2 separate regions of the Homo sapiens genome follow, and region 1 is linked to region 2. The links come from fine-mapping of genetic effects on gene expression. A gene starts in region 2. The other region holds a variant in brackets. All regions are shown on one strand. Distances are from middle to middle. Region 1 has its middle 15 kb from the start of KCNS1. Region 2 holds the start of RIMS4 (regulating synaptic membrane exocytosis 4).

Evidence for each region. PIP is the estimated chance that this variant, and not a neighbour inherited with it, causes the effect.
Region 1: its variant is the best candidate, but not a certain one, in a credible set for the expression of RIMS4 in thyroid (GTEx, PIP 0.84).

Annotation. Positions count from the first base shown.
Region 1 is chr20:45,083,672-45,087,936 of GRCh38, reverse strand. No RefSeq gene overlaps it. Among named protein-coding and RNA genes, the nearest start is that of KCNS1, 15 kb to the left of the region's middle. The variant C/T (reference allele first, on the strand shown) is at 2,526.
Region 2 is chr20:44,808,954-44,813,218 of GRCh38, reverse strand. RIMS4 (regulating synaptic membrane exocytosis 4) reads left to right here and starts at 2,673. Exons shown (of 6, transcript NM_182970.4): 1 at 2,673-3,044. The coding sequence starts at 2,948.

The sequences.
Region 1 (4,265 bases), 270 kb before region 2:
ATTCCCCCTTCCTTGATAAAGCACCACAAAAATCCATTTCCACAGATACTTCCCCAAATTTTTGATGGTGTCAGTTAACAAGTTTCTTCAATTCTGTATGGGTCCAGGATTTTTACCTACTGTGTCTACTTGTCATGCTCTAGGCCAAACTGATCCCCACCTTCCAGCTAAGTAGCCTTGAGGGATGGGGCAAGCAGAAAATTGTGAGCTTTCTCCTCTAAGAAAAGGTGTGAATTGTTTGCACCCAGTGTTTTAGAGAGCTTTCAGTTTTCTCCCACATCCTCTCATATGATCATTCCACTTGTCATAATCCCACTGCCTATTAATGCCTAACTTCACAAAGTGCAGCAGGGCTGTGAATTCAGCAGCCTGCATCATCAATTGCCAACTTTGGTATTTGGAGAACTAGGCCCTACTGCAAGTCATAAGAGAGTCTTTTACCGTAGTCATAGAAATGCTGTCCGTTCATTCTGTTTATGAATTTTTTTTATGTTAAAAAAAAAGGCATTGGGGCTTCCTTTGTTGACTCTCCCTTTATATTAATCTATGTGGTTAGAAACAAAATACTCTATCACACAGCCTGAACACTCCTCACTTCCTTAAAATTAACTGTGACACGTGTTATCCCTTCTCTGAGAGCCTCCTCAGTGGTCAGATGCTATGAAGTAATGTAAGACATAGGTCTTTACCATTGCAGACCATTGCTGGCTTCCCAGACTAGAGCATGAGCAACAACCTCATTGTATTTTGCCCCATCACAGTCTTAGGAAATATCCCACATTTCCTAGAGGATATGGTGTCTACAACTCAACTCTAGTTCCAATTTCTGTATCAGTTAGGAATTTTTGGTTGCAAACAACAGAATCCAACTCTGGAAAACTTAAGCCAAAAAAGGACTGCATTGGAAAGGTACTGGATAGGATCAAAGTCAAATTAAACAACAAGGCTTTGAGAAAGACAGCAATTCGAGCAACATAGGGATTGAGGTAGGTAAAACTCATAAATCACCTCTTTGGGGCACTACAATTAAAATAGCTTAGTGACAACTGCCTCCATTGTATAAATCACTCTGCTCAAGCTAAAAAATTCTCTGAAGATTGAGTCTAACTAGACTGGTTTGGGTCATATGCTCATCACATGATTTCGGGGTGAGATGGGAGGAACTATCACAGACAGTCCCACCAGGACATAGATGGCAGAGGGGTAGCTCCCTGAAGGAAGATGAGGGTCCTTTCATTAAAATGAGGGGAAAGGATCCAGGGGAGACAAAACCAACACATATCTTTTACAATACCACTGAGTGAGAATGGCAGCCAGGCAGCTTGGTTTCAGCAACGACGAAATCAAGAATGAGAGAGAGAGACAGAGAAACAGATAGACAGACGGAGAAATTGGTTTCTGCATCACATGGTAGATAACAGGGTTACCAACATCTCCCAGTTTGGTATCTTGTAGCGCCTCCACTAGAGAACTTCCCATTTCCAGTTTGAAAAATCTGATTGGCCCAGAGATTGGTCACCTTGGGTGAGATGACTGGATCACTCAACTGTGGCGAAGGGGTTGGATCATGTGAACCTATGGCTGGGGTAGGAGTCAAGCAGTTCCCAGAAGAGGGAGTACAGGACGGATCTCATAGTAATCCCTTGCAGTCTTGCTCTCTTGGTCTTCAGTTTCAACTTCTGTAAAATGGAAGGATAATGTCCAGAGATGTTAGGGAGCAACTGGGGGCATGTGGGACAGCTCAGCACATCTGGGCTCTGAGATGTGATGTGCTTGTTGTTAATGATAAACAAACTGAGTTTCCCCCTCTTTGCAGTGACCTCAAGGTGGCGACTTCCCTTGTGAGTGAGACATAATATTCCTTAGGGATTATCAGATTGAAGATCTGCCCCCTCTCCAGCCCCATTTTACAGATCAGAAAAGAGAGACCCAGAAGTCCAAGGTCAGACAAGAAGCAAATCCCATTCCTCAATCCCTTTGAGTAAGAAGAGCTGTTCAGCTCAAATAAGGGCCAAGCAGGGTGTTTACACTGGGACATCAGAGTGGAAGACTCCAGTTGACTTATATGGTACTCTTTGAAGCCCCCAAGAGTGAAGATAGCCTAGCAAATAATAGTCATCCTCCACATATCCTTGTCACTGTAATTTGCAAAGTGGTTTCACATACATTATCTCATATACTTCTCACAACAACTCCACAAGACAACAGCAACAACAATAAAATAGTAGTATCACCACTGAACAGATGAAAAAACCAAGATCCATGGTCAGACAGTTAAAAAGTAGCAGATCAGGGATTCAAACTCAGGCTTTTTAATACCAGATTGTACTCACTCAGCACCACTTCCCACTATTATCACTTTGTCTGGTAAACTTAACTCCCCAGGCACCACTGAAGGAAGTGGCTTTGAAGTGTGCGTCCTATAATGAGTTTCTTCTATCTGAAGGCTCTGGAAACAGCCCTGAGGTGCTGGCTGGGATGGTCCTCAATACCAGACCTCATACTTCAGGCCAGTCCGGCCCTGC[C/T]TGTGTGGAAAGAATTCTCCAGGAAGTTAGTAAGTTGAGAAGATAATCTTCTAAGACAGGAGTCTTTGAGAAGGAAGGGGAGGGGGTGGCACAGGGAATGTCTTTCAGAATCCTGTCTGCTAGAAAGGAAGAAAAGGACAAGGGCAGTTGTAGACTGGTATTTAACCTTGCTCAGAAGGGTAGAGTTCAGAACCCTCAAGAAATTCATTCATTCAAGAGGAAGAATTGCACACACCTTGGTTTTTGAAGTCACATCTGGGTTCAAATATTGGCCCTGCCACTCATCAGTGTGTGACCCTAGATTGGACCTGTTGACCTCTAAGGGGTATTATTATCAGGACCAACCCCCAACTGGTATCCAACCCCCACCCCACCTCCCTGCCATCTTTTCCTACATACCTAGATCAATAAGGAATCTTTCAGGTACAAGTGAAAGAGACCCAACAAAGTGACTTAAGTACAGGTGGATCCAGAGGTTCCACTGAAGTCATCTTGTCATTTTTCCCTGCTTCTCTCTCTGCTCTGTGTTTCTGTGTTGGCTTCAGACAGTGAGTTATTTACAATATTTGAATAAAATGGGAGAATATGAGGGATGCCATGCGATGCAGAGGAAAGAATGTGGTTAAGTCCAGCAAGTTGGGCTTGAATCTGCTTCTTATGAGGTGTGTGATCTTGGTTGGGTTTCTTTGTCTCTCTGAGCCTGTTTCTTCACTTATCTTGGTTTAATAACACCTACACCTCAGAGCGTTATGGGCAAGTTCAAGTAAGATAATATGTATGAAAATGCCTGGCACAAGGTTAAATATTAAAGAAGCCCAAAAAATGCAAAGCAAGGAAATAGAGCTCAGCAGCCTCTACCAGGGCTCTTGTTTTCCTCTGGAGGGCAAAGCAACTCCAAGCAGAGGGCACTGGGAAAGGAAGGGGTTTGCTTATCTAGAGATCACAACCTGGACTCACACTTGAGGCCATAGTTGGGGTCCTGGAGTGAACACTGGAGTCAAGAAGCCTAAGTTTGAATCCAGACTTGACACTGCCAAGTCTTGGGCCTCTGTTGGATCATTCATCAGAACAAGATGTGGCTGGGATAAATGCTCATGGGCTAAGAGTAACCACCCCTTACATCTGCAGAGGCCTAGGTAGTTTCCAAGGGGCCTTCCCATCCATGGTCTTGGAAGCTTCTAAAAGAGCCCAGTGGAGTAGAAGGCAAAAAGTCTTGTTTATTCAAGTATAAAATACATATGGGAAAAAAAAGCACAGATCCTAAGAGTTCACATTGATAAATTTTCTCATCATGAACACACTTGTGTAACAAGCACTCAAAGAATTAGAACCTGAGTAGCACTGTAGTCCCTCCTCATACTCACATCCAGTCACTACCCCACAACCAACAAAGGCAATCGTTGCCCTGACTTTTAACATCATAGAGTAGGTTTCCTTGGTTCTGAACTGTATATAAAAAGAATTGCACAGTATGTACTAGTTTGTATCTGGATTTTTTATTGTGGCAAAATACATATAGAATTTACCATTTCAACCATTTTTAAGTGTAAAGTTCTGTGGCATTAAGTACACTCACATTGTTGTAAGAACATCTGTCTCCAGAGCTTTTTCATCTTCCTCAACTGAAACTCTGGGCCCATTAAACACTAACTCCCCATCCCTCTCTCCCTCCCTCTGCCAACCACCATTCTACTTTGTCTCTATGAAGAGACCTTGCTACTCTAGGTACCTTATGTAAGT
Region 2 (4,265 bases):
GTATGTGTGTTTGCACATACATACACGCATATACACATGTACATAAATATGTGTGTATCTGTATATATACATGTACCCCCCCACATATATATGAAACATGTCAGATGGTGATGAGGGCTACAGAGAAAAATAAAGCAGGGTAGAGAGGATCTGGCATTTCAGGGAGGGGTTTTTGCTACTTCATAAAGAGTGGTGAGGGAAGACTTCAGAGGGAAAGTGACATTTGAGCAGAGATCTGTGAGTGAGCTACACAGCCCTTTGCAAGGGAGAGGGCTTCAGGCAGAGGGAACAGCAGTACAGATGTTCTGAAGCCGAGTGAGCCACCGGGGTGTCCTGGGTATGAAGACAGAGGGGTGGCAGAGCCAAAGAAGTTAGGACCTTGTAGAACATGGACTTTGACTGTGAGATGGGAGGGTTTGGGGCAGAGAAGTGGTCAGTTTCTGGTTACATTTTGTGTATAGAAATGACAGGAGTTGCTGATGGATTGAATGTGGTGTGTGTGAGACTGGAGTCAAGTATCCAACATTTCTGATCCAAACAAGTGGAAAAATGGAGCTGCCATTGACCAAGATGGGGATGATTATACCAGCACTCTTAACCATGACACCAGGCTGCCTCAAAGTCTAGATCTGGTCCCTGGGAAGGGGCTAGGGCTCAGGAGCACCTGCCGAAGGCCAGCACTGTGCTAGGTGTTTTGCACACTGTGATGGGCAGATGTGTCAGAATAACTCCAGTGATCCTTGCCCTTATGTAATACCTTGTGTGATCCCGCCCTTGTGTGAGCATGGGTGGAAACTGCGACCCTGATCAGGAATCGCTACCGTGATTATATTACATTATATGTCAAAGGGACATCATGCGAGTGGACCTGATCTAATCACACGAGACCTTTAAAAGCAGAATCTCTCAGGCCAGTAAGCAGAAGCCAAGGTAGAAAGATTCTACTGAAGGATGAGAAGGGCTTGACATCCTGAAACTGGCCTTGAAGGTGGAAGGGGCCAGGTGAAAGGACCAGAAAGCCACTTCTAGGAGCTGAGGTTGACTTCTGGCTGACAGCCAGCAAGGAAACAGGAACCTCAGTCCTGCAACCACAAGGAACTGAATCCTGCCAACAACCTGAATGATCTTGGAAGCGGATTCTTCTCCAGAGCCTGCAGAGAAGAGCCCAGTCTGGCCAATACTTTGTGAGGCCCTAAGCAGAGAACCCAGCTCAGGCTGCCCAGACTTCTGACCTACAGGATTGTAAATCACTAGATTGGTGTTTTTAAGCTGCTTCATTTGTTATGCAGCAATAGAAAACAAACACCTGTGTTATCTTACAGGCAGTTCACAACCATCCAAAATGGAAGGCTCCTGTCCCCATTGTACAGATGAGGAACAGGACCCATGGGATAAAGAGTTTTGCCATAGGCCACCCAGAAAGACAGCACCACAGCTGAGATTCAAACTCTGGGCTGTCTCTTTCTGAGGCCTGAACTGTTTCCATGTCGCCAGATGGCTTCATAAAGAGGTGTGCGAGCAGCTGAGAAGGTTGTTTGACATCTGGGGCCTGATTAGGTGGGCAGGGACCCTCACGTCCCAGGTCACATGCAGGGAATGGAACACGGGTTTCCGATTCGCTCGTCTCTGTCCTGGGGCTGTGAGTGTCTGAGCCCGTGTGTGTCTGAGGACTGCGGGTCGCCGAGGGTGATAATGGGAGAGTCTGTGAGTGTGAGCCTGCCAAGTGTGTCTCAGTGTACCTGAGTCTGAGGGTGTCAGTCAATCCGTCGGGATGCACCCACACTGGGAGGGATGGAGTCTGTGTGGCTGTGTCTTGGCGTGTGTGTGCTACTCTAGTGTGTCTGAGGGTGAAGGTGTGTGCATCTGGCCGTGTCAGTCAGAGTGTTTGACAGTGCTGAGATGATCACAGGGGGAGGCGACACAGAGTGTGTGCTGGGTCTGGGCTTGTGTGTTCATCTGAGTGTATGAATGTGTGTATGAATTCTGGGGTGTCTTTGGTAAGTGTGAATGCATGAGACTGTGTATGCCTACCTGAACTTCGTGGGGTTTTGTGGCATCTGAGAGTCTCCCCGTGAGGGAGGCCGGGCACCAGGGATGTCCTGCCTACCTCCCTGAGTGTGTTTGCAGGTCTCTGCGTGAGTCTGCGTGTGTCCGTGGACGTGTCTGTCCCCGCATCTGTGAGGGGGTGGGTCTGTGGGTGTATCTGTCCGGGTGTCTGCGGGGCATGTTGCAGAGTGAATGTGTAGGTGTGGGTGCCTGTTTGAGCTTCTCTGTGGGTGCAGGTGTGAAGCCGAGGGTCTCTGTGTGGGAGGCCGAGTGCCGACCCGCCTGGGCGGGACCCTTTGAGCGCATCCCCTCCGAGCGCGCCAGTGTCTCTGGGAGAGGCCTGTCTGGGTGAGGGACTGGACGCCGGCCTCTCCGCAAGTCGGCCGGCTGAGGGTGGGGGCCGAGGCGGGGTCGGGAACAGCCCTCGGACCAGGGCCCAGACAACCTCGCCCGGCGCCTGCCTCCCCGCGCGCACCTGCCGGGCCCGGGGGCTGCTAGAAGAGGCCGCAGCCCGCGCCCTCCGGGCTCCCACGCCCCGCAGCGGCGCCCCCTCCCCCGGCGGCACGGATTGGCTGCGGCGCCGCTCCAAGCCCGCCTCGCGCTGCCGGCGGGGGGCGCCGCGGACCAGAGCGCGCTGCGCCGCCACCGCCGCCGCCACCGCCGCCGCCGCCGCCGCCGCCAGCAGCACAGCGCGCCTCGGGCTCCGCGCGCCGCCAGCTCCTGGCCCGCCCGCCGGCCCCGCCGCGCCCGCCAGCCCCGCAGCGGAGCCTCGGCCCGGCCCCGGGCCGCCGCCACCACGCCGCGCGCCGTACTCCGCGTCAAGAATGGGGCGGCCAAGCTGCCCAAGCCGCCCGCCGCCGCCGCCGCCGCCGCGGCCGAGGCGCCCGGCGCCGGCGCGGGCATGGAGCGCTCGCAGAGCCGCCTCAGTCTGTCCGCCTCCTTCGAGGCGCTCGCCATCTACTTCCCGTGCATGAACTCCTTCGACGACGAGGACGCAGGTAAGCGCGCGGCCCGCCCCCCAGACCCCCGGGGTGTCCCGGGATCCAGGTCCGGTAGCCCCCTCCCCGACCCGTGCGCCCTCCTCCCCACCCCCAATCCCCTGGGAAGGCGCCCCCAGGGTCTCCTTCCGCACCCACGGGACCCCAGGGTCTCCAGGATGCGCTACCTTCTGGCCTTCTCCCCCAGGGACCCCGAGATTGTCTGCATTCACCTTTCCCGCAGGTGGGCCCTTTGGGTCGCCAGGACCCATCTCCCTCCTCACCCGCGCCTATTGGAGGCCCCTTGCCTCGTCCCTGGAGCCGACCTGCCACCCTCCCTGAGTCTCCTGAATGTGCCCACTCTTCAAGCCCTGGGCTTTGGCCGTCCCACCCCTGGGGCTCCGACGCGCCCCCCGCCATTGGAGGTGGCGCGCAGACCTTACCTCTCCATCTTTGTCTTGGCCACATCCAGAGGATCCCTGCCCAAGACCCCTGCCCGGCGCCCCAGGCCTTGAGCGCCCCCATTTATCTCTCCTCTCCTTCCCTCATGGGCTGGGGCTCCAGACTCCTGCTTCTTATACGCCTGGGGCAGACGGAGGGGAACCGGCCAGGTGACGGCCTTTCCTCCCCTCTCTTCCCGGAGAGAGGTGTAGGGCGGCGCCAACTCTACACTTGTCCGCCCGCTGGTGTGTGCCCCTGACCTCAGGTGCTCTTGTCCCTGGAGTCGCCTTTCTTGGTGGGCTGAAGCCGGCCACCAGCCAGCGGCTTGAACCTCCTCCTCCCAGGCCTGCGCACAACCTCAGCCAGAGCGAGGGGTGGGGAGCTGTAGGGAAACCTACTCTTTAGGGCCCTGGGACCCGGCAGAAGGAACATGAGAGCTCCGGATTTGGTTCTGGGGTGAGGAAGGGAATCCACCAACAGGTGGGGTAGCTAGAGGGCTTGGGTGAGAGTTCCCCAAAGAATGCCAGATTGGGAATCGGAATCAGGTTCCAGTCTTCATTCTCTACTTCTTAGCTGTGACCTTGGGCAAGTCATGCCACCTCTGAGCCTGGATTTCCTCATCTCTGAAATGGGGATCATCGTATCGATGCAAAGCTCTGTATGGTGTGAGGGTGGAGTTCAGTGTTTTATAAGGTGAAAATCCGAGAGTCTTTGAATTCAATGGGGGAACAAAACAGAGGAGTGTATGTGCTGGAGGAGTGTATGTGCTTGAGGAGCAAAATGGTTTCATGGGCACTTTCA